7 linked regions of the Homo sapiens genome follow. Changing the gene in region 1 together with any one later gene gives a genetic interaction. Each region holds a gene or a part of one and is shown in the gene's direction. Other genes may lie near its edges.

Region 1 (3,500 bases):
ATTTTCATAAATAAACACTTTTGTTCAATTTAAAGTTAAAATGTGGTGTGTTTCTTTGGTCGGGGGAGAGGGATAGTGTGAGGTTAAGGAGAAGGAATGCTTATTTTAGATCACTATATACTGAAGAATGTAATTGGTCATTATAAGCCATTTAAGAGGCTTATTTGAGTTATTTGAGGCCATCTTGGGGATAATATTTCACTAGGCTTCTCTTCTGAGTATACTGGTATACTGAATCCAAAAAAGGTACTTTTTGAAATCCCTCCGAAGACCTTTGAGATTGTAGAGTGCCAAAGGAGTATTCAAGAGTGGCCTCTACTGATATGGAAGCACTGCTGTAACCTCCATGGTTATGAAACTAAAGATTGAAGCTAGAATCCACTGGATAAACAGAACAAAGGCCAATTACAATGTTTTTAAAAACATAAATGTATATCACTTTGCAAATTATGTTGCAAATGTTAAAAGAAAGTTTTGCTTGCAGAAACAAAAGGAACATTTGTATAAGGATGCAAAACACAGAAAAAGAGGAACTTTTAGTTTCCTTATTAGTAAACAGATAAGGAAAACTGTGAATCCTCATTTATAACCAAGAAATGCATATTTTAATGAGATACCATTTTGTAACTAATGAAATTAGCAGAATCTTGAAGAATCTGTCTATCCTCTTACCAAGGATTAATGAGAATTAAAATAGATATGCCAATGGCTGATAAGATACTAAACCTGTTCCTGATATAAGTTTAGGGTATTTAAATCTTTGAAAATTTGAGATCAGCTATAAGTCCTTTCTCTAGGAAAAACACAGATTTGCTTACACTCAAAATTGGAAGGCTATTTCCTATGAGTCCGTAGACTCCAAAATAAAAAATTCTGCTCTAAATAAAAATGGTTTAACCTTTCTACTGTTTTCTTTGTCTGATAATAACTTCCAAAAAAATACCTAGCTCAAGGGTTAATATTTCATAAATAGTTACTTTTTTTTTTCATTTTTAGGAAGTACATCTCAGAATCTTGATTCTGGAACAGATTTGTCTTTCCCATGGATTCTGAATGTGCTTAATTTAAAAGCCTTTGATTTTTACAAAGTGATCGAAAGTTTTATCAAAGCAGAAGGCAACTTGACAAGAGAAATGATAAAACATTTAGAACGATGTGAACATCGAATCATGGAATCCCTTGCATGGCTCTCAGTAAGTAGCTAAATAATTGAAGAAATTCATTCATGTGCATATGGCTAACAAATTATTGTTAGTGAGAGGTGTTTCTTAACATCTACCTCAAGAACATATAGGGAATTTAATGAATAATGTTATTTCAGTCTATAGCCCAAGGATCAAGTGGAATATTAGAATGGAGCTTTAATCGAGCACCCTAAACCATCTAATACAGCACAGTGATTTATTTAAGAATAGCTTTTCTTAAAACATGCCACTTTAAAACAAAACGGATTTTTTTTTTATACTTTAAGTTCTAGGGTACATGTGCACAACGTGCAGGTTTGTTACATATGTATACATGTGCCATATTGGTGTGCTGCACCCATTAACTTGTCATTTACATTAGATATATCTCCTAATGCTATCCCTCCCTCCTCTCCCTACCCCATGACAGGCCCCAGTGTGTGATGTTCCCCACCCTGTGTCCACGTGTTCTCATTGTTCATTTCCCACCTATGAGTGAGAACATGCAGTGTTTGGTTTTCTGTCTTGGCAATAGTTTGCTCAGAATGATGGTTTCCAGCTTCATCCATGTCCCTACAAAGGACATGAACTCATCCTTTTTTATGGCTGCATAGTATATATGTGCCACATATTCCATGGTATATATGTGCCACATTTTCTTACTCCAGTCTATTATTGTTGGACATTTGGGTTGCTTCCAAGTCTTTGCTATTGTGAATAGTGCCACAATAAACATACGTGTGCATGTGTCTTTATAGCAGCATGATTTATAATCCTTTGGGTATATACCCAGTAATGAGATGGCTGGGTCAAATGCTATTTTTGGTTTTAGATCCTTGAGGAATCGCCACACTGTTGAACTAGTTTACAGTCCCACCAACAGTGTAAAAGTGTTCCTATTTCTTCACATCCTCTCCAGCATCTGTTGTTTCCTGACTTTTTAATGATCGCCATTCTAACTGGTGTGAGATGGTATTTCATTGTGGTTTTGATTTGCATTTCTCTGATGGCCAGTGATGATGAGCATTTTTTCATGTGTCTTTTGGCTGCATAAATGTCTTCTTTTGAGAAGTGTCTGTTCATATCTTTCACCCACTTTTTGATGGGGTTGATTTTTTCTTGTAAATTTGTTTGAGTTCTTTGTAGATTCTGGATATTAGCCCTTTGTCAGATGGGTAGATTGTAAAAGTTTTCTCCCATTCTGTAGGTTGCCTGTTCACTCTGATCGTAGTTTCTTTTGCTGTGCAGAAGCTCTTTAGTTTAATTAGATCCCATTTGTCAATTTTGGCTTTTGTTGCTATTGCTTTTGGTGTTTTAGTCATGAAGTCCTTGCCCATGCCGATGTCCTGAATGGTATTGCCTAGGTTTTCTTCTAGGGTTTTTATGGTTTTAGGTCTAACATTTAAGTCTTTAATCCATCTTGAATTAATTTTTGTACAAGGTGTAAGGAAGGGATCCAGTTTCAGCTTTCTACATATGGCTGGCCAGTTTTCCCAGCACCATTTATTAAATAGGGAATCCTTTCTCCATTTCTTGTTTTTGTCAGGTTTGTCAAAGATCAGATGGTTGTAGATGTGTGGTATTATTTCTGAGGGCCCTGTTCTAAACCAAAACAGAATTCTTTAAAGTATTTAGATAATTTATTTAAAGTACAGTTGTTATATATTTGAAAATGCAAATGTCTGCTCTTAAATTGTGAGATTATGCTATTTAGATTATTAAAAAGTGCATTTTTTTCTTGTTAAATATAGTAGGATTCATTTTTTCCCATTATTAAAGTATAAAAATGTATACTATTGTTCAATTATAGGTATTGGTTCAATCAATATAGGGGCACAAATTATATTGTCTAGGATTCTCTTTATAGCATTATAACTATTGATAAGGCTTTTGTTTTAATAAAAGTGGCAACTTGAGGTTATGCTCTTCAAATCAACATAGTTGGATAATACTTTGTGAATCATCAGTTTTGTAAATTAATGGTTTCTTTTGAAACTGTGTTGCATGCTAAGTATATATCTTTTAATTTGTATCAGTATATAGAAGTGGTAATTAAAAAATTAAGACTTTAGGTATGCCATAATCCTAATTTGCACATGTAACCTTAGTTTTAATTTCCTTACGTTTTGAATTTTTAATGACTAAGCGATAATTTATTTCTTAGTGTTTTCTTGTATTGCCATATAGACAGAGTGAATAGAGGAGAGAAACATGGGAAATTGATAGAAGAATGTTACACTCCTATTATTGAATTTCATAACTACTTATGGAATGAATTTACACTTGATAAGGAGTACTTAGAAGAAAACTTTCTGA
Region 2 (3,500 bases), on another chromosome or scaffold:
TTTACATTCAGTACCATGGCCAGCAAGTCTACACCCATCTTGGTCCTCATTTCAATAGTCTCAATTTTTCTGTTGCCACCTTCTGCCTATGGAACTCTTTTTGTCTTTCAAATGCTGCTGCTGTCATATGTGTGTGTGTGTGTGTGTGTGTGTGTGTGTGTGTGTGCGTGTGTGTAATATATGGCCTTTTCTTATGTGCTGATCCATTTGCCTAAAGCTTACTTCCCAGGGCTAGCCCCCACTCAGTCTGTCAGCTTCCACTTATCACTCTCTAAGCTGGGTCGGGGCTCTCTGTGCTTCCTGTTGGGAGAATACCTACCGTGTCACCTTGCACATGTCTGTTTTTACTTATCTATCCTTCTGCAGATTGTGACTAAAAATGATGTCCATTTGGTCATCCCTGACGCCTATGTTTGATACATAGTAGGTCGTGTATAAATGTGTTATTACGATTGAGTAGGAAATTGAACTGATGAAGAGTTAGGGGATCGTTTTCTTTCTTATTCGTCTCTAAGTGCTATTCTTTGATATTTCCCTCTCCCCAAAATACTTCCTCAAACCCATGACTTCTACTTGAATTTCCTCCACTCATCATTTCCATAGGATCTTCACCAAATTCGAGATGTTGAGGTTCACAGTTACAATTGCGCCCTCTTGTGGCACTTTATGAAGAGGCCCAGCCATTGGCCATTTAGGCCACCTGGCTTCAAAGCCTAGTCCCATTCTTGCCATCTTAAGCCTTAGGCTTCTTCTCTACTGGGATTTTCTCATCATGGGAATAATAACAATAACTACCCCATAGGCCTGGAATGAAACTCCTATGAGATTATCCATGAAAAGCCCCTGGAAAAATGTTGGGCATTTGATACTGTCATTAAATATTGACCATTTTTATTCTCGGTCTAGAGACTCCCAGATCTCCACAGAAAATAAATAAATAAATAAATAAATAAATAAATAAATAAATAAATAAAATGAGGTTGGAATACACTCTTCTTAATGGAAAATGAGTGTTAGTGAGTATAAGTAATTGTAATCTTACTTCCATTGTTACCTTCGGCATTAAAATGTTTCATTTAAATGAAAATTGTATTTGCATTTAGAAGTTGGTAAAAATGATCATGTCCAACTTATACAAACCTCATTTATGGCATAAGATTTCTTTACCAGTGAAGTGGGTAGATATGACCTCCTCTTAGGCCTAATGGCTGCAAGGTACTCAGAAGGAAATGAAATTTTTCAATCCCCAAATTGCAAACCTTAGCACAGACTGTGACGGCATAAGCCAAGCAAAGCAAATGGAGGGAGGCTCATTTAACACTTTGGATCTTGCACATGGACCCATTGGCTTGCGAGCCCAGAGGCCAACCTGGTATCAATTCACCCCTGTTTGGGGAGAATAAGAGTGCATGCTAATTTGACTGCTTGTAAAATATTATTGGACAATTAGAGTGGACAATTAGAGGCAAGTCTATCCCAAAACTGAGTCTTATGTTAATAATGTTTTTTATTTTCTGTCTTCTCAGACAGCTCAGCTCTCTCAAGCCAGCGGAATAGTTTCCCAACTTCCTTTTGGACCAGCTCTTACCAGCCCCCACCTGCACCTTGTTTGGGGGGAGTTCATCCTGACTTCCAGGTCACTGGACCCCCTGGCACCTTTTCTGCAGCTGATCCCAGTCCTTGGCCGGGACACAACCTGCATCAGACTGGCCCAGCCCCTCCCCCTGCTGTGTCTGAGTCCTGGCCTTATCCTTTGACATCTCAGGTGAGCCCATCCTACAGCCATATGCATGACGTGTACATGCGGCACCACCACCCTCATGCCCACATGCACCACCGCCACCGCCACCATCATCACCATCACCACCCTCCTGCTGGCTCTGCCCTGGATCCATCCTATGGGCCTCTGCTGATGCCTTCAGTGCATGCGGCCAGGATTCCTGCTCCCCAGTGTGACATCACAAAGACAGAACCAACTACAGTCACCTCTGCTACCTCAGCATGGGCTGGAGCCTTTCATGGAACAGTAGACATAGTGCCCAGCGTGGGATTCGATACAGGTAAGCTGCTGGATTTCTTTCTTCCTATAACAAGATAAAGTTAATTTAAGAAAGGGTGGAAATTTGTTTTGAAATTATTTTTTCTTATCTGTAAAGTTAAACTTTACCAACATGTTTATGGAACCTAGCCATTTTGCAATAATTTCTGCATTCCTGCAGAAACTGGTATGACTAGCTCATGAAATCCAGCCTGAGAAAGGTCTCAGAGCTTTTCTCTCATATCTTAGGTTAGTAGTCTGTTCCTTTGAAATGGAATCTCTGGTACCTTCTGTTTAAAAAGAAATGAGCCCATTATTTAAATCTCCCATGTCTCTGAGCATTATACCATGTGTCAGGCCTAACAGAATTCAGAAATGGTGCACTTCAGTAATTTTTCTTTCCTTTCTTTTTTTGTTAGGCCTTATGTATGACTTATAAAAACTGGTTTCTGAAATATAGTCTATAGTGTAGCCTTTTGAACAAGAATTAGGGAACATATTTTAAAAGAATGATTTTTTTCTTCATTTTCTTCCTCCTCTCCCCTCCTCTGCCCTCCGTTCCCTGACTTTATCCTCCTTTGCCTTTCCTTCTTTTCTCTTATTCCTCCTCCTTTGTTCCTCTCCTCTCTCCCTGTCTCTGATTTAAATAATACAAGACTTAAAAGACTACTATAAAATTTATATTCAACAGATTTAGAAACTAATAGTAAGGAAATGATTTCTTCACAGAGCATTCATCTCCTGTCTGGAATTCAATAGTTCTGAAGGTTCTGTGTCAAATGTCTGAGCTTGATTTTTGGACCAGACTGGTCATATTAATAGTATTCATAGTTCTGAGCTCATGAAATCATAGGCATCAGAGCCCAAAACGACAAATTGATCATTGTATCCCTGGAGTCCAAAGTAGTGGGTCCCAGGTTCTTTTGCTAGAACATTTTGTGGCACATTGGAACTCTCTTTCCAAAAGCTTAAAGAAATTCTTTCCTTCCTTAGCTTTTCTGTAGTGTGGAGAACCCTTAATCATGTGCTGGTTCACAACAAATAATTCCCCAGAGTCATAAATGCTCAGCTTTATTTTACCTCTCCCGTGACATGAGTGGAACGTTCTTATTTTGGTTAACTTTTCTCCACTGAGCTTTCCATTGTTGATCATTGCCCCATCTAACACATTTCAGCTTCCTATTGAGACTGGGTTCAAGCTGCTTTTCTAAACAAAGTATCAGGGGACTTGGTAATCCCTCTGCAGATGCGTGTGTGATGGCACAGCAGGCACAGGCTTCCCTTCTTTCTTTGCCACATACTAACAAAATAAAGACAACTTGGGAGTCATTTGATGCCTGAGGCCAGATCTTATTAGAGTTCCCAATTTGGCAGCTGCCTTCATGGACAGCAGGTCTCAGGAGGCTCTTCTCTGTTTTATGTGGTACTTATGTGGCAACAGCAACAATGCTCTTAGCAGGCA
Region 3 (2,873 bases), on another chromosome or scaffold:
GCCCACAAAACACGGGGACAATCGAGAGCACCCCAACGAGCAATAGCAGAGAATGCCAGAAGGTAATCACTCAGATACACTTGGGACCAAGAGACAGTGAAAAATAGATGAACTAAGAGAAAAAGAATCGGATGGTCTTTGTAACTGATTCTGGACATATGCATCATTGATGTTGCAGTGTTGAAACTACAAGAGCTAGAAAACTGAAGATGTCGTCTGCTTACGGAAGCGCTGAAAGACTAGGATGTGATTTATTAACGACCAACTTCTGTTATTGTGTGTTAAGTTTTTCATCTGTGCATCAAATCACAAAAAGAATAAATAGAGCTTTTTCCTTTATCAGTCCCTTGGGCACAGCAGGTCCTGAACACCCTGCTCTACAATGTTGCATCAAGAGTTCAAACAACAAAATAAAAAATATTAAGAGGAAATCCCCATCCTGTGACTTGAGTCCCTTAAGTCTACAGGGGCTGGTGACCTCTTTTTGCTAATAGGAAAATCACATTACTACAAAATGGGGAGAAAACTGTTTGCCTGTGGTAGACACCTGCACGCATAGGATTGAAGACAGTACAGGCTGCTGTACAGAGAAGCGCCTCTCACATCTGAACTGCATACTGAGCGGGCAAGTCGGTTGTAAGTTCAGTAAAACCCTCTGATGATGCAAAAAAAAAAAAAAAAGTATTAAGTTTCACAAGCTGTTTGTACTCAAATATATTTTCTCAGTTTCAGATCCTCTGCTATTTTATTGAGTGGAAAGTCTTGAGCTAAAAGGGTTCAAGAAGAATAATGTTGCATTTCCTTATGTCTCAGGAAACACTTTTTATGGTAACTTGTCAGATTGTCTATGAACAAACCCACTTTTTTAGACATTGATAAAGTCTTCTTTTCTTCACGTGATATTTTATACAAGAACACTTCAGATGTATTAGATGTGACTGATTTTAACAAATCCTATTAGATTTGTATCAACTAGTTACATGTTCTATTCATAGTCTTTTGTGAATCATTGCCTTTTTGTTTAAAAAGATGGCCTATTTTGAGCCTTTGTATAGGTACATTCCTGTTTTTGTGACAAAAGAAAAACTTTAAAATTGTCCCAAACAGAAAAATAATGGCTATCAGAAGTATGTTTTGTTTTAGTGTGAGTTACCGTTACTGTATTTGTTTATTGTAAAGGTGGACATTTAGCGTTCAGTGCAGTTTTCAATAAAAAGTAATTAAAATTTGTTAAGTTCTGAAATTCAAGTACATCTCACTAATGTAAATGTTCTCTACTTGAGATGTTTAAGGCAATTGCATTGTCAATTAGCCAATTTCCAGCTCTTGTTACTACAGGGTTCCATAACCAGACTCAAGACCGCTGACAATTAATTACCTGTGATAACAAAAAGTTTAATTGAAAAATCAAAACCTCACACAAGTCCATCATTATCACGTCATGCCATCCTTAAGATGCAATGGTGGGTTAGTGCTAAATCAATTCAAAAAAAAACAAAGTTGCTCAACTTTTAGAGTTCTGACTTTAATCTACCCCAAAGCAAAATGACCTGGACCTGGTTCAAGGGAGGGAAGTGAACCTTGAAACTGTTTTGCCAATAACCTAACAAACAAAATGATATTTACAAAGAAGTGTTGCAAATAGTCCCATGAGTTAAGAGCTTGATTTAATGGATCTTCTTTTTAAATAGAATTAAACCTTTATACTAAAAGTATTTGCAAGTGTCAATTAAGTCCAACAATTCCAGGTATGAAACTCCCTCTGAGCTCTTCCTTATACTTCCCTTCCCAATTAAAACAAAACAAGAAAATCATGGTGTCTTAAAGCCTTTGGCTTGCCTGGCCTTGTCTGCTCACTCATTTTAAGGTGGTGGCCCCATCCCAACTCTACCATAAAAGTGTCTATTAACACAAGCTCACATGGAGAGAGACGGCGCTCATAGTTACTGACCTATTACCCCAGGGAACAAAAAGGTAGTTTAACGTCTTCGTAACCACTCATCAAAGAGGCAATGAAATATGCGTGAAAAGGAGGCCAAGCGCACACAGAATATCTTACCTTCACGAATATGTGAAGAAGTCTGGGACACGATGAACCTAAGAGTCAAAAACATAAAAAGGCAGGTCTGAATCCATGGTCCACCTGGGTTTTAATTATTAGATCTTGGTCGCCCAAACAAAAATTTATATATATATATATAAATTTGACCCCAAGGAAGAACAAGTCAAAACAAAATGCCACGCTCTGTTTGCTCTAGAAAAAGAACCATCAAGTCCACAGAGTGCAGGTATGACTTACTCTCCAGAGTCAGTCATTAATGTCTGTCACCTAGCCACGTATAATCATCTTTGAAAAAGGACTATATTCTATCTTGGGACAATAATTATGGCTGTTTTAATAGTTCAAGAGCATAATATAGCATTGATTTACCAAAATTTTTGGCCTTTAACAGCCAGTCTATGAAAACCATTTAGAGCCCCATTCCTGTCTGTAGCCTAGGAAATGGAACCATCTTTAATTCTTTCCCACAGGGAAGAATGCTGCACCTATCACACTATGTGGTCAGGGTCACTGATTGATAATAAATAAATAAATAATAGAGCGCTCAGGGGAAACAACACTCACCAGACCACAACACACAGTAGAAGCTAAGTGCTGAGCGTGTACTCTGGACAACGCTGGCTGCAATGCAGACTGCAATGGCTACATGCTTTTCCCTCTAACAATTCTCTTTGGCTTTTTCAATTGGGAGGGCAGATTTTGCTTAACAGGCAACTAGAACAGGATCTCTGCCCACTAAAAAATTATCCCTATACATAGAGAAATTACTACAGATGCTAAGTAGTCAGAATGCTAACATTTTCTACAAACT
Region 4 (4,198 bases), on another chromosome or scaffold:
TGGAGTCTGGAATTTGTTCAGCAGAGCGTGGGGAGCCATGGAAAACTTAAGTGGATATTTTTTAAATGTGTCAAAACTTACCCAGAGTTTTGACACAGAGAGGAAGACTTTGCCTGACCTTTGTATCTCCTTTCACCTGTGTATCTCCAGTACTCAAAGAGTTCCAGACACATAATAGGAGCTCACTGTATGAATTCAAGTGAAGAGAAGGTGCCCGGCTGGCATTGCAGCCAGGACAGGGCTTGTGGGTTTAGGTTGGGCAGTGAGGAAGTTGAATGAATGAACTTAAGGGGACATCTTTGGAGAAATTACACAAGATCTAAAAGCTATCTAGGATTATTTAAAAAACTTTGGGAGGCAATTTGACAATATACACCAAGGCATTTATAAATATTCCCATCATTTGATCCAGTAATTCTATGTGTGGGACTCTATGCTAAAGTAATAATCCTAAAGGAGGAAAAGTTTTATGCATAAAGAAGTTTTGCTTCATTATGCTATATGCTTCAAAAGCAATATTACAGTATTGCTTTTTAATAGAGAAGAAATGGACACAGTCTAACAATTGGGAAACAAGTTGTGTACCTTCTATCTGTGGGGGTATTTAATATGTTGTCATTAAAATTATTCTAAAGACAATGTAATACTACAGATAAATCCTTAAGTTTAAAAACGTGCAAAATTGAACATAGAATATTTTAAGTCATGGGAGTGTGCGAAGTGAAGGAGAAATCTCTCTCAGTTAAGTGTTTGTCCGGGAGTGGTAAAACACTTTTTCCTTCTTTTTATCTTTATCTTTCTGTGTATTTTCCAAATTTTACATAGTTACCTCATTTACTCAAATACTTATTAAGCATCCACTATGTGCCAGGCGCTGCTCTAGAGAATTGCGGGTAACAGTGAATAAAACACAACTCCTGTCCTCGAGCCATAACATTTACAAGATAAATCAACTAAATGTCATATGAGACGGTTAGTGCTCGGGGAAAAATAAGGCAAGGAAAGAGTAAAACTGATACTGCATTTACTTTTTTAAATGGAGGGGTAAGGTACTCCTCCAGGCAGAAGAACAGCAGGCTGAATTCGGAATTGCCCCAGCGGTAACAGAATGAAAGAGCTTGGGACACGCCAGCCTGTCAGCAACGTTGCAGCCGAGGCGGGGCGCGCGGGTTTAGGATGGGCGCGCGACAAGGTGAAGCGGATCACGTGACTCGAGGGGCGGGAGGAAGAGAGCAGAGTTTGGCCGGGCACCTTCCCTGCGAAAAGGCGGGCGGAGCCGAAAACCAAACAAACGACTTCTGAGAGATTGGGGGCGGGACTGACGGCGGCCGGCTTAGCTTCCAGAGCCAAGGCCTTCCGCCGAGTTGGTTTTTGGGTTGTTGATCGCGGTGGCCGGGCGGTCTGCGGTCGGGCTGAGACACGCGGAGCAATGGCGACCTTTGTGAGCGAGCTGGAGGCGGCCAAGAAGAACTTAAGCGAGGCCCTGGGGGACAACGTGAAACAGTAAGAGCTGCCCTAGCACAGCGTCCAGGCCAACACGCGGGTGCTCTCCTGGCCTCGGGCTGCCAGCCCGCCCCGGAGACGCCCGCGTCGCCCGGGGGCCTGTGCAGCCTGGAGTCCGCGGCGGCGGGGCTTCGGGGTTTCTCCGGCCGGGGCGGGGCGGGCCACCTGAACTCACCGCCCTGGAGAGACCGGGCCTCCTGGGCGCCCGGGAGACATCGGCGGGCGCCGTTGCTCGGGACTGTCTGCCCTGGGTGGGGCGGGAGAAGCGCACTTCGCACCCAAGGGCCTGCTGAGCAGGTGCGGGCCCCAGCGCGGGCGTGCGGGATGCGGGAGGCTGACTTGGGCGGAGTGAGCCGGAGCCCTACGCGTCCAGCCAGAGGGCATAGCGCAGGGCGGCCCGCCCCTGGAGGGCTTCCTGGAGGTGGAGGCCTGTTGAGCTGGTGTGATCTGCTACGGATTATTGGTAAGCTCTTTTGACAGCAATTTCGTAAGGCAGACGGACCCTCTGGTGAAATCACAGTCATTGAACACTACAATTATAGTGATGATAGCAGTAGCGGACATTTTAAACATTTTAAGCTCTCTAAATATATTATCTAATCCTTACAACAGATGTGAGATAGGTACAGTTGTTATTCCCATTTGACAGATGAGAAGACTGAGACCTAGTGCGGACAAGTAACTCTTCAAAAGTCACTGTCAGAGTTGGGACCCACGCTTTTGATTCCCGACTGATGCATTAGAGGGGCTGTAAAGGATCCCAGAGACGCTCAGCCAGACCTTCATCCAGGTTATGGCAGGGGACCTAGTGCACAGTCAGGTTAGGTGCAGAATGGCCAAGGGTAAAATCAGTATCCAGTCAAAGCCAAAGCCAAAGAGCAAAAAAGGAACCTCTGGGATACAAGGAAGAGTTTGGAAATTTTCAAAACGTTGTTATTACAACTTTATTTTTCAAAAATATAGGAAGCAAATATAAACGTTTAAAATTACAGTGCCTGTGTTGTTGCTGCTAGATGGCTTCTCTGGTATTCTACACATTTGCATTACTCAGTGGATGCATACTTTTAAATGATGTTGGTGGAGGAGCAATTTGGGAATACTTAATTTTTCTCCAATACTTTCTTTTCATCCTTCTCTGTTCTTTATTATTACTGGATTGAAATTACTTAGGTTGGATGTCATACATGAATTTTGGAGTTTTTCCTTCATGTGAAATTTTGGGGTGGCAGAGTTGACAGTCTACTTTTCATCCTAACAAGATAATAATGGAAACTATAAAAAGATTAAAATTAAAATCTAAACTGTTATTTTAGCATAATTATTTAATTTTTGGTGAACATTTATTTACGCCCAGAGATATGTTTCACTTTGTGTTTGGGGGTTGGGGTCTTGCTCTGTGGCAGAGGCCGAAGTACAGTGGCCTGATCACACAGTTCACAGCAACCTTGATCTCCTGAGCTCAAGAGATCCTCCCCTGCTGTGAGCCTATAACTGGGACTGTAGGCACGCCCCGCTAATCCTGGCTAAAGTTTTTTTTTTCAGAGACAAAGTCTTGCTGTGTTGCCCAGGCTGATCTCAAATCCTGGCCTCAAGCAGTCCTCCCGCATTGGCCTCCCAAAGTTCTGGGATTACAGGCATGAGCCACCACACCCGACTATAGTGTACCACCGAAAATTGTCTTTCGATATTGATGTTCACTGTGCTTATTGAATTAAATATTCTTACTTATTTTAATAGGTAAAATTGACAGCTTTCACCCTAATTACTGTAGCTTTTTACTTTTGTAATACCGACTGATAAAATTTACCTTTTTTTTTTTTGAGATGGAGTCTTGCTCTGTCGTCCAGGCTGGGGTGCAGTGGCATGATCTCCGCTCACTGCAGCCTCCACCTCCTGGGTTCAAGCACTTCTCTGCCTCAGCCTCCTGAGTAGCTGGGATTACAGGCACCTGCCACCACGCCCGGCTAATTTTTGTATTTTTAGTAGAGATGGGGTTTCACCATCTTGGCCAGGCTGGTCTTGAACTCCTGACCTCGTGAGCCACCCGCCTTGGCCTCCCAAAGTGCTGGGATTACCGACGTGAGCCACCGCGCCCAGCCAAAATTTACATTTTTAAGCACATAAGGGGCATTTCACTCTGTTCCATCTAGAATGCTTACAAATATTTGAAAGCAAACGTTTACATACCAAAATAAATCTGAAGGACCTGGCTTGTGTATGATTGCCTTTAACCCTGATTAGATGCAATGGTGACCTCTGTCATCCCATACTCATCAGTTACAGGTTCAGGGCTGCCAAAAGTGTTTTTGAAGTTAGCATTCCTTATTTAGTTTTTAAAGGCCAAAGCCGACTGTCTGATGTTGGTCAAATACTGATGCTGAAGCTAAATTTGGTGCATCTGGAGTGTGAATCCCCACTAAAATGCAATCAAAAGAGATTTTTATGCCAGAAACAGTTAATGGTAACGTATAGTTCTAAATTTGTTTTTCCATTCTCTCATTGTTCTTTTCCCTTCTCCTTAAAAAGTACCTCTGGGTTAAATAGTCAGTAATACTCTTGTACTGTACAGTCATTTCTTATATTTCCTCCATGAGCAGTTTGCTTTGGTTTGCACAACCTATTTAAGTGTGGTCCTCGGTGGTAGGCAAAACATACAGGGTTATGCACGGAGGCTGGATATGAGTTATTTGCTATT
Region 5 (4,088 bases), on another chromosome or scaffold:
GTGTTCCTCGACAGCCGCGCGGCTGAGTCACTGGCGGGCTCGGGCGGGGCCGCACCCGGGCACGTGGCGGCGCTCCCCGCCCGCCATCTCCTGACCCCTGGCCCACCGCACCCCTACCCCAGGGTGGAAAAATCCCGGGAGGAGCGGCCTGAGATGAGGGGGCGGGGCGAGAGGGGAGACTGGACGGGTGGCGGGGCAGGTGGCCTGGGGTGGGGGCTGGGAGGCCGCGCGGGCCGGCGGGGCGGGGAGCAGGGGTGGGGAGAGGGCGGCGGGGGTGAGTCACCGGGCGCGCGCTGCCCCGGCGCCGACGGGAAGGGCCTCCGAGTCGGGCCGAGGCGCCGTGTGTCCCCCGCCGGTCGGCTGGTATGGCTGCAGAGGAGCTCGGGGCAGACCCCGCACTGGCCCCAGAGCCGGCAAAGTGGAGATCTCTACCGAGGGCAGAGACCTACCTCCCCGCAGTGCTACAAGTGGGGCGCCGGAAGAGCCCCAGGCGTGCAGAAGCTCACAAAAGGCCACCCGTCCTCGGTCCATTCATTTTTGTTCACTGTTGATTCAGCCCCATTCATTGATGGGCTGGGGCCGTGCGCTGAGCGCCCACAGTCGATGGGGAAAGGGGCTCTGACCGACAGTCCCCACGCCGGGCGACAAGTGCTGTCCCAGCGTTATCAGTCGGGCGCCTTGCCAGCCGAAAGGGCCTGTCTAAATTCGTTTCCTGTCCCCTAACTCATCCCGGCGCTGGCTGGCCTGGAGAGGGTAGGATGGGGCGGCGCCGAGAATGGCCGTTATGAGGACCCTAAGAGGTGAGACCCTCTCGCCTTCTGGGGTGGGGGGTCCCGTCCTTTCCCCCACTGAGGACAGAGGCCCGCCCAGCGATCTGAGCATGTGTGGACGTCAATCTTGCAGCCCCTCTTCCAGGCCCCCTCCCCAGCCTTGCAGGGCTCAGGTTACCCCTGGCCTTTCCTAAAGGTCACTCATTCCTCTTGACGTTTGCAAAAGGGGAATGTAATCCTGGGGTGGGGGGAGACCCCTCATCTGTAGCCCCTCCCTTGCTCCTCCCAAAGGGTGGAATTAGAACAGGGACTGTTATTGGGAGACAGAAAGTGGGGGATAGTAGTTGACCTTTGGTAAGGGGGCAGGTGCCCAGGGCCAGAGGCTTCTGCTTCAGGCTGTAGTGGGCACTTGGCTGCCAGCCCAGTGTGAAGGGGGGAGGATGGAGAGAAAGAGAGGCGGGGCTGGCTGGGGACCGAGTGGCTCAGGGATAAATGCGCAGCCTGAGAGGGGGTGAGCTGACACTGTCCCAGCTGCCACCTAGACTCGGAGCTCCATCCAAACCTCCAGCGAAGACATCCCAGGTCGGGTGAATCTTCCAGCCCTGGGGGTGGAGGTAGTAAAGGGTGAGCATGGTATTGGCTTGGAGGAAGTGGGGGACATTTCTGCTTTTTTTCCTCCTGGGACTGGAGATGCTTGAAAAAGCTGGGGGAAGGGGCGGCTGGAGCAAGCAGATGGGACAAACTCTGGGAACACCGAAGGATCTAGGGAAAGGAGGCTGTGAGGAGGGCAGCAGGGATGGATAGAAAAGGGCAGCTAGAGCTGGAACCTGATAGGGAATTGGGGGCCCAAGGAGATTTCGGAGCAGGAAAATGAGAACCAGAAAGGATTTGAAGGCCACCAGCCATGGAGAACAGACTGCTTGACCAGAGGGGTGGAAGGAGAAGGCCTAAGTGGAGGCTTGGGGGAGGTGGGGGCTTGGTGAGCGGTGGCATCCCAGGAGCTATAGATAAGAGGCCCCTGGATTCTTAGGATGGGAGGGTGGAATAAGAGCTGTTCTGAGTGGGGGAGGGGGCTGCGCCTGCCTCTTTGGTCTGTGACCTTTTTGTAGGGTATTTTTAGCTCCAGCACCTGCCTTCTTGGAGTGGGGAAGAATCTTAAAGGGCAAGGGATTTCTGGTTCCTTAAGAGATCAACTGTCTACACTCACTCACACCTCCTGTCCTGCAGCCATGGCCATGCAGAAAATCTTTGCCCGGGAAATCTTGGACTCCAGGGGCAACCCCACGGTGGAGGTGGACCTGCACACGGCCAAGGGTAACACAAGGCCCATTGGATAGGCTCGCCTCCGAAGACCCCAACCCTTTGGCCTTTGCCCCCCAGTTCTGTGCCATATCCTCTCCTTTCTCTCGGGTTCCCTTTCCCAGACTTCTTCCCAAGCCCCCTTCTTCCAACGTGGAACCAGAGCTGGAAGCTAGGAGAAGCAGGAGTCTCTCTCTGCACTGCCTCCTGTCCCTGAGCTCAGAGAGGACACCTCAGCCCTTTGAGAGGTAGAGAGACTCCCTGTGAGGTCCTTTTTTTTGTTTTGTTTTGTTTTGAGATGGAGTCTCGCTCTGTGGCCCGGGCTGGAGTGCAGTGGTGCAATCTCAGCTCACTGCAACCTCTGCCTCCCGGGTTTAAGTGATTCTTGTGCCTCAGCCTCCCAAGTAGCTGGGATTACAGGCCTGTGCCATCACGCCCAGCTAATTTTTTTTTTTTTTTTTTGAGATGGAGTCTCACTCTGTCGCCCAGGCTGGAGTGCAGTGGCGCGATCTAGGCTCACTGCAAGCTCCGCCTCCCGGGTTCACGCCATTCTCCTGCCTCAGCCTCCCGAGTAGCTGGGACTACAGCTAATTTTTTGTATTTTTAGTAGAGATGGGGTTTCACGGTGTCAGCCAGGATTGTCTCGATCTCCTGATCTCGTGATCCGCCCGCCTTGGCCTCCCAAAGTGCTGGGATTACAGGCGTGAGCCACCGCGCCCGGCCTCAGCTAATTTTTGTATTTTTAGCAGAGACGGTTTCGCCATGTTAGCCAGGCTGGTCTTGAACTCCTGATCTCAAGTGATCCACCTGCCTAGGCCTCTCAAAGTGCTGGGATTACAGGCATGGGCCACCGCGCCCAGCCATCCCTGTGATCTTCCAATTCCTCCTGTCCCAGGCCGATTCCGAGCAGCTGTGCCCAGTGGGGCTTCCACGGGTATCTATGAGGCTCTGGAACTAAGAGACGGAGACAAAGGCCGCTACCTGGGGAAAGGTGAGGAGACACCAGCGCAGAAGGAGCCTGTGTGGGCGGCTTTAGGACATGGGTGCACAATGGGTAGAGGACTGGAACCCCCAAGGCTCTTGAGGAGCTGGGGTCCACAGAAAGGGGCCCAGTTGATTGAGCTCCAAAACTCATCCTCTGGCCTGTCTAGGAGTCCTGAAGGCTGTGGAGAACATCAACAATACTCTGGGCCCTGCTCTGCTGCAAAAGGCAAGTGGGGAAGCCCGCTCGCTGCAGCCTCCTCCCCATGCCCCTGCTCCCTCAGCCCAGACAGGCCTCTCCCGAAACATTTTCCCTTATCCTTCCCCTGCATGTGCCCTGACTTCTGAGAAATCTGACCTCTGCTCTCCCTTCTCAAACTCACCCTTCCAGAAACTAAGCGTTGTGGATCAAGAAAAAGTTGACAAATTTATGATTGAGCTAGATGGGACCGAGAATAAGTGTGAGTGAAGGGCTAGCGGTGGGGAAGGGATGAGGTGTGGGAGAGATGGCGAGAGGCCATGGGGTGAGGCCTGATGGGTTATTTCTGGGTCCCCCATTTTGGGTCACACCGCAGCTGGATGGATTTGTGTTCATTCCACAGGCATTTCCTATGCCTGCCTTCTGCCAGGCCTGGGCCGGGCTGTGGACACAGACATGCAGCTGACACATTCCCCCGGGGTGGGGGTTCCCAGGGCTACTCAGGCTGTTGGGGAGAGATCTGTTAACCAATTCTTCATGCTCAGTGGTTTGGAGCTCTGGCGTCTTCCTGGAGTAGCCACCCCAAACCCTGCAGAAGCTCTCATCCTTTCTTCCCGCTTGCCTCCTTCCAGCCAAGTTTGGGGCCAATGCCATCCTGGGCGTGTCCTTGGCCGTGTGTAAGGCGGGAGCAGCTGAGAAGGGGGTCCCCCTGTACCGCCACATCGCAGATCTCGCTGGGAACCCTGACCTCATACTCCCAGTGCCAGTGAGTGCAGCTACCCGCCCTTCCCAGATCTCGCCTGGACAGAGCCAACCCCGCCCAGCCAGGGTTGGCCCCC
Region 6 (3,500 bases), on another chromosome or scaffold:
AGCAACAAAGACAAAAAAAACCTTTAACCATGACCACCCCCATATCCCACACATAAAAGAAACTGTATCCAGTTAAAATGGTGAGAATTGGTTTTTTCCCCCTTGATACTGCCCCATCTCTTTGCCTGGGTATAATCATGAAGTGTACATTCCTGGTATTACATGTTATCGTGATTTGGTCACACCATGAGTGAGTTATGACTAAAATTTTGTGTTTTGGGGGCATTTGAACATTTATTCTATAAGAATACTATCAGTTTTTGGCTGGGTATGATAGCTCGTGCCTGTAATCCCAGAACTTTGGGAAGCTAAGGTGGAAGGATCATTTGAGGCCAAGAGTTCGAGACCAACCTGGCCAACAAAACAAGACCCTATCTGTACAAAAAATTAAAAAAATAAATAGTGGGCATAGTAGCACACAGCACACGCCTGGCACTAGTGACTCCAGAGGCTGAGAAGAGATGATCACTGGAGCCCAGGAGTTTGAGGATGCAATGAGCTATTATCCTACTACAGCACTCCAGCCTGGGTGACAGAAACCTAATTGCTAAACACACACACACACACACACACACACACACACACACACACACACACACACACACACACACCCCTATGTGTTTTTGTTGTGTATGTTGGCTGTGTACTGGTAGTTTTGAAGAAAGATATATTCACTTTAATATCTTAACTACTCTAAAGTTTTGACATGATTGCTTAAAGACTTGTAATGTTTTAGAGTCTATTTTCTTTTTCTTTTTTTTTGAGATGGAGTCTCACTCTTGTCATCCAGCCTGGAGTGCAATGGCGCGATCTTGGCTCACTGCAACCTCCACCTCCTGGGTTCAAGCGATTCTCTTTCCTCAGCCTCCTGAGTAGCTAGGATTACAAGTGCCCGCCACCAGGCCTGGCTAATTTTTGTATTTTTAGTAGAGGCGGGGTTTCTCCATGTTGGCCAGGCTGGTCTCGAACTCCCAATCTCAGGTGATCCGCCTGCCTTGGCCCCAAAGTGCTGGGATTACAGGCGTGAGCCACGCGCCTGGCCTGGAGTCTATTTTAAATTAATTAGTATCCTTTCGTGTAAACTGAGAGTTCATAATCAGATTAGATTGATTTTAAAGCTATATATTATAATGTCAGTAACTGAAATTCTGCTGCCAAGTTTTTTGTTGTTTTTTGTTTATACAATTCAGTGACTTTGAGTATATTTACAGAGTTGTGCAGCCATCACCAAAATTAGGTTTTAGAAATTTTTACCACTCGGCCGGGCGCAGTGGCTCAGGCCTGTAATCTCAGTACTTTGGGAGGCCAAGGCAGATGGATCACTTGAAGTTGGGAGTTCAAGACTAGCCTGGCCAACATGGTAAAATCCTGTCTCTACTAATAATACAAAAATACCCAGGCGTGGTGGTGCATGCCTGTAATCCCAGCTACTTGGGAGACTGAGGCAGGAGAATCACTTGAACTTGGGAGGTGGAGTTTCCCATGAGCCGAGATTGCACCACTGCATTCCAGCCTGGGCAACAGAGTGAGACCTTGCATTTTTTTTTGAGACGGAGTCTCGCTCTGTTGCCCAGGCTGGAGTACAGTGGCGCGATCTCGGCTCACTGCAAGCTCCGCCTCCCAGGTTCACGCCATTCTCCTGCCTCAGCCTCCCGAGTAGCTGGGACTACAGGTGCCCGCCACCACGCCCGGCTAATGTTTTGTATTTTTAGTAGAGACGGGGTTTCACCGTGTTAGCCAGGATGGTCTCGATCTCCTGACCTTGCAATCCGCCCGCCTCAGCCTCCTAAAGTGCTGGGATTACAGGCGTGAGCCACCGCGCCTGGCCGAGACTCCATCTTAAAAAAAAAAAAAGGAAATTTTTATCACCCTATAAAGAAATTTTGGGGCTGGGCATGGTGGCTTACGCCTGTAATCCCAGTACTTTGGGAGGCCAAGGCAGATGGAGCGCATGAGCCTAGGAGTTTGAAATCAGCCTGGGCAGCATAACAGCACCCTGTCTCTGAAAAAAAAAAAAAAAAAAAAAGAAAAAAAAAGAAACAGAGTTTTGGCCAATTTAGTTACTTCTGATTCTCACCCTCAGCCCCAGGCAACTAACCTATTTCTCATCTCTATAGATTTGGCTTTTCTAGGCCCAGTGTGGCTCATACCTGTGATCCCAACACTTTGGGAGGCCGAGGCAGGAGGATCACTTGAGACTAGCCTGGGCAACATAGTGAGACCCGTGTCTCTACGAAAAATAGAAAAAAATTATCCGTCTTGGTGGTGTGCGGCTGTAGTCTCAGCTGCTTGGAAGGCTGAGGTTGGAGGATCGCTTGAGTCTCCAAGGTTGAGTTTGCCGTGATCCTGCCACTGCACTTCAACCTGCGCAACAGAATGAGAACCTGTCTCTAAAAAAAAAAAAAAAAAAAGCTTTTTCTGGACATTCCATATAAATGGAATCATATAGTGTATGACCTTTTATATTTGGTGGCTTTCACTTTTTTTTTTTTTTTTTTTTTTGAGATGGAGTCTCACTCTATCACCTAGGCTGGAGTGCAGTGGTGTGATCTCTGCTCACTGCAACCTCTGCCTCCTGGGTTCAAGTAATTTTCCTGCCTCACCCTCCTGAGTAGCTGGGACCACAGGTGTGCGCCACCACACCTGGCTAATTTTTGTATTTTTAGTAGAGATGGGGTTTTGCCATGTTAGCCAGGCTGGTCTCAAACTCCTGACCTCAAGTGATCCGCCTGCCTTGGCCTCTCAAAGTGCTGGGATTACAGGCGTGAGCCACAGCATAAAGTTTTTGAAGATCATTTATGTTGTAACATGTATCAGTACTTCATTTCTTTTTAGGGCCAAATAGTTATTCTGTTTTATGGCTACAGTGCATTTTGTTTATCCATTTACCGGTTGATGTTCATTTGAGTTATTCATTCAGATGTTCAACTGAATTGTGAATAAAGCATTTTTTGTTTCTTTTTTTTTTTTTTTTGGAGATAGGGTCTCACTCCGTTGCCCATGCTGTAGTGCAGTGGCGTGAAAAAGCTCGCTGCAGCTTCACCCTCCTGGGCTGAAGTAATTCTTCTGCCTCAGTCTCTCATGTAGCTGGGACCACAGGCACGTGCCACCATTCCCAGCTAATTTTTTGATTTGTTGCAGAGATGGGGGTCTCGTGATTTTGTCCCGGTTGGTTTTAAACTCCTGGCCTCAAGCAATTCTTCTGCCTCTGCCTCCCAAAGTGTTAGGATTATAGGCATGAGCCACCTCCTCGCCTGGCCTGAATAAACCTTTTAGAAGGCTGGGTGTGGGGGCTCATGCCTATAATCCTAGCACTGTGGGAGGCTGAGGCAGGTGGATCGCTGGAGTCCAGGAATTCCAGACCGGCCTGGGCAACGTGATGAAACCTGTTCTCTACAAAAAATGAGCCGATGCTGGGCATGGTGGCCTGTATTCCCAGCACTTTGGGAGGCCGAGCTGGGTGGATCATGAAGTCAAGAGTTTAAGACCAGTCTGGCCAA
Region 7 (3,500 bases), on another chromosome or scaffold:
CTCTGTCGCCCAGGCTGGAGTGCAGTGGTGCCATTTCGGCTAGCTGCAAGCTCTGCCTCCTGCATTCACGCCATTCTCCTGCCTCAGCCTCCCGAGTAGCTGGGACTACAGGTGCCCGCCACCACGCCCAGCTAATTTTTTTGTATTTTTAGTAGAGACGGGGTTTCACTGTGTTAACCAGGATGGTCTCGATCTCCTGACCTTGTGATCCACCCGCCTCGGCCTCCCAAAGTGCTGGGATTACAGGGGTGAGCCACCACGCCCAGCCTTAATTACTTTCTTAATCAATTCTTTGAGCACATGGTGCAATCTCTCATACTCAGGAAGGGCATCTCTTGTTTCAGCCATTCTTATGAACAAGTGGTATGTATATACATGTTTAACCTATTAACATGTTACATGTTAATCTATTAAATGATTACATTCTCCCAGTTGATTTGATTATGTCATCTCTGAGAACAGCTGTTCCAATCATCTATTTCTTCCAGAAGTACATCTCACAGGCCGCTAAATATACTGGTTTTTTTAAACTAGTAGACATTTAAATAATTACATGTTTAATCTATTAAAATGTAGCAAGTAATTAATTTCCTCTCCAACAGGCTGTAAAGTTGATCTTGGAGGTTTTGCTGGTCTTTTTGATTTAAAAGCAGCTGGTTTCAAAGATCCCCTTCTGGCCTCTGGAACAGATGGCGTTGGAACTAAACTAAAGGTAATCAGACACCTTTGTGAATAAAGGCCTTTTAGGAAAGATGAGGAAATTTATATCAAATATGTATTTTTCTTCTCTTGACATATATGAGCTAAAAAGGACCATGCCAAATAACCATGTAAAATGGCTAAAATATCTGCACATTTCTAATAACAAATTATTATTTAGATTATATTTGGATGGAAGGGTACTTTAGAGGATAAAAGGGGATGCTTTTAGACCAAGTAGCTTGTCAGAATTTCGTGTTCTTTTGTTTTTAGGTGTTAAGAGCAGCTAATCAAATGGATAAGATACAATTTTGAACTTATTCCCTAATGTGGATGTTTATATTGTTCTTACATAGATTGCCCAGCTATGCAATAAACATGATACCATTGGTCAAGATTTGGTAGCAATGTGTGTTAATGATATTCTGGCACAAGGAGCAGAGCCCCTCTTCTTCCTTGATTACTTTTCCTGTGGAAAACTTGACCTCAGTGTAACTGAAGCTGTTGTTGCTGGAATTGCTAAAGCTTGTGGAAAAGCTGGATGTGCTCTCCTTGGTATGATCAGCCATTTTAATCAATAACATGTCATTCTTCTTTTTGTGTTTTAGCCCTATGTAAAAATGTGATCAGTGCCAATGTAGCTAGCAAGAGAGACTGTATATCACAAGATGCATATATGTGATATGCACAAATGAAATATAGGTAAAACTACCTGAATTAAATTTAGAGCCTGCTACCTTCAAAGCCCTCCTCAGGGGTTTGTCCTCTAGACCCGTACTCCCAAACTGTCAGGCAGGCCTTATCTTTCTTCCCAATTTTTGGCCACCTTTTAACATCCCCATCAGTCTCAGTAGCCTCCTCAACAAACAGGTCTAGGAGTTATTTCCTCCTTATTGACCCCACGGTACAGGCAGATGGGTTCCTGGCATTCCGGATCTTAACTAAAGCCAAATTTTCCCATAGAGTGACATAAATAATAATATACGCCCAAGTTTTATAGAAGTATCTTTATACATGAAATGTTTGAGCAAAATGAATCTGTAGGTTGATCAAGGAACAAAATAACCTCTTTTTTTAATTTAAAAAAAAAAAAAAGGGAATCTCTCTCTGTCACCCAGGTTGGAGTGCAGTGGTTCAATCACAGCTCACTGCAGCCTTGACCTCCTGGGTTCAAGGGATCCTCCTGCTTCAGCCTCCCAAGTAGTTGGGAACTACAGGCATGTGTCACCAACCCAGCTAATTTTTGTACTTTTTGTAGAGATAGGGTTTTGCCATGTTGCCCAGGCTGGTCTTGAATTGCTGGGCTCAAGCTATCTTCCCATCACAGCCTCCCAAAGACACTGCCTCTTTTTTTTTTTTTTTTTTTAAACAGAGTCTTGCTCTGTCACGCAGTCTGGAGTGCAGTGGCGCAATCTTGGCTCACTGCAAGCTCTGCCTCCTGGGTTCACACCATTCTCCTGCCTCAGCCTCCCGAGTAGCTGGGACTACAGGTGCCCGCCACCACACCCGGCTAATTTTTTCTATTTTTCAGTAGAGATGGGGTTTCACCGTGTTAGCCAGGATGGTCTCAATCTCCTGATCTCGTGATCTGCCTGCCTCGGCCTCCCAAAGTGCTGGGATTACAGGCATGAGCCACCGTGCCCGGCCAGAAACTGCCTCTTTTATATGACCATTTAAACCAGAAATTGTGCCATCTTGCATCTGCACATGTGTGCATCTAATCTCAGCTGGTCTACCCAGGACCCCTTGAGCACCAACCCTAGTCCTCCACATGACCCTTTTCCACGCTGACAAGATGAAAGAAACAACCAAATTGCAGGCACAATTGCGTAATGATGGAAAAGAAACAGAAAGAAGGTGGTTCAGCTACAGCAGATGATAAAAACTTCAGTTCTCCTTAAGAAGTTAAGGGTAAACAATATCTCTGGTATTGAAGGGGTGAGTATGTTTACAAATGAAGACCAGAGATCCACTTTAACAACCTAAAATGCTGGTAGCATTTCTCTGGGGCAGTGAACACTTTCACCATTACAGGCCATGCTGAGACAACGCAGCTGATAGAAATGCTACCAGCATCTTAAACCAGCTTGGTGCAGACAATCTGACTAGTTTAAGGAGACCGACTGAAGCTCTGCCCAAATAGTCTGTGGATGGAAAAGCACTGCTTGCTAATGGAGGGGATGGTGATGAAGTTCTAGATCTTGTAAGGAGTTTTGATGAGGCTATTAAGAATGAGGCAAACTGAATTGAGTCAACTTCTGAAGAAGAAAAAATATGAAGTAACTAGGAGCTGCTATTTTACATTATGACTGCTTTCTGAAATTGTTTATGGATCTGATAAAATTTAGATCTCTAATATTTTAAGCCCCATTCCTGTTGGACACTGCAGCTCTTTTCAGTTTTTGCTTATACACAATTTCTTCTTTTTTTTTTTTCTTTTTGAGATGGAGTCTTGCTCTGTGACCCAGGCTGGAGTGCAGTGGCACAATCTCGGCTCGCTGCAACCCCCACCTCCCAGGTTCAAGCAATTCTCCTGCCTCATCCTCCCAAGTAGCTGGGATTACAGGCATAAGCCACCACACCTGGTTAATTTTTGTGTTTTTAGTAGAGACAGAGTTTCGCCATGTTGGCCGGGATAGTCTCGAACTCCTGACCTGATCCACCTGCCTCGGCCTCCCAAAGTGCTGGGATTACAGGCGTGAGCCACGATGCCCAGCCCACAATTTATTCTTTGTAGCTAATTAAGCTAAAGAAGCCTGGGAATAAAGTTTGAAACAAACAAAAATTGCCTTTCAACCACC

Evidence for each region.
Region 2: changes in RB1 (region 1) and VGLL3 together harm fitness more than expected from each alone (negative genetic interaction), as found in Homo sapiens cells (one large-scale study listed by BioGRID).
Region 3: changes in RB1 (region 1) and CTBP2 together harm fitness more than expected from each alone (negative genetic interaction), as found in Homo sapiens cells (one large-scale study listed by BioGRID).
Region 4: changes in RB1 (region 1) and TADA1 together harm fitness more than expected from each alone (negative genetic interaction), as found in Homo sapiens cells (one large-scale study listed by BioGRID).
Region 5: changes in RB1 (region 1) and ENO3 together harm fitness more than expected from each alone (negative genetic interaction), as found in Homo sapiens cells (one large-scale study listed by BioGRID).
Region 6: changes in RB1 (region 1) and RPS6KB1 together harm fitness more than expected from each alone (negative genetic interaction), as found in Homo sapiens cells (one large-scale study listed by BioGRID).
Region 7: changes in RB1 (region 1) and GART together harm fitness more than expected from each alone (negative genetic interaction), as found in Homo sapiens cells (one large-scale study listed by BioGRID).

Annotation. Positions count from the first base shown.
Region 1 is NC_000013.11:48,380,251-48,383,750, forward strand, and holds part of RB1 (retinoblastoma-associated protein), read left to right. Parts: intron 1-996; coding exon 997-1,193; coding exon of another isoform or gene 1,194-1,205; exon of another isoform or gene 1,206-3,500. UniProt on the Homo sapiens protein: Tumor suppressor that is a key regulator of the G1/S transition of the cell cycle. The hypophosphorylated form binds transcription regulators of the E2F family, preventing transcription of E2F-responsive genes.
Region 2 is NC_000003.12:86,967,150-86,970,649, reverse strand, and holds part of VGLL3 (transcription cofactor vestigial-like protein 3), read left to right. Parts: intron 1-1,526; coding exon 1,527-2,060; intron 2,061-3,500. UniProt on the Homo sapiens protein: May act as a specific coactivator for the mammalian TEFs.
Region 3 is NC_000010.11:124,986,691-124,989,563, reverse strand, and holds part of CTBP2 (C-terminal-binding protein 2), read left to right. Parts: coding exon 1-46; 3' UTR 47-2,873. UniProt on the Homo sapiens protein: Corepressor targeting diverse transcription regulators. Functions in brown adipose tissue (BAT) differentiation. Isoform 2 probably acts as a scaffold for specialized synapses.
Region 4 is NC_000001.11:166,873,465-166,877,662, reverse strand, and holds the start of TADA1 (transcriptional adapter 1), read left to right. Parts: upstream 1-1,398; 5' UTR 1,399-1,429; coding exon 1,430-1,503; intron 1,504-4,198. UniProt on the Homo sapiens protein: Probably involved in transcriptional regulation.
Region 5 is NC_000017.11:4,949,831-4,953,918, forward strand, and holds the start of ENO3 (beta-enolase), read left to right. Parts: upstream 1-1,288; 5' UTR 1,289-1,352; exon of another isoform or gene 1,353-1,394; intron 1,395-1,997; coding exon of another isoform or gene 1,998-1,999; coding exon 2,000-2,084; intron 2,085-2,964; coding exon 2,965-3,060; intron 3,061-3,220; coding exon 3,221-3,279; intron 3,280-3,441; coding exon 3,442-3,511; intron 3,512-3,881; coding exon 3,882-4,015; intron 4,016-4,088. UniProt on the Homo sapiens protein: Glycolytic enzyme that catalyzes the conversion of 2-phosphoglycerate to phosphoenolpyruvate. Appears to have a function in striated muscle development and regeneration.
Region 6 is NC_000017.11:59,899,621-59,903,120, forward strand, and holds part of RPS6KB1 (ribosomal protein S6 kinase beta-1), read left to right. Parts: intron 1-3,500. UniProt on the Homo sapiens protein: Serine/threonine-protein kinase that acts downstream of mTOR signaling in response to growth factors and nutrients to promote cell proliferation, cell growth and cell cycle progression.
Region 7 is NC_000021.9:33,518,118-33,521,617, reverse strand, and holds part of GART (trifunctional purine biosynthetic protein adenosine-3), read left to right. Parts: intron 1-602; coding exon 603-712; intron 713-1,055; coding exon 1,056-1,254; intron 1,255-3,500. UniProt on the Homo sapiens protein: Trifunctional enzyme that catalyzes three distinct reactions as part of the 'de novo' inosine monophosphate biosynthetic pathway.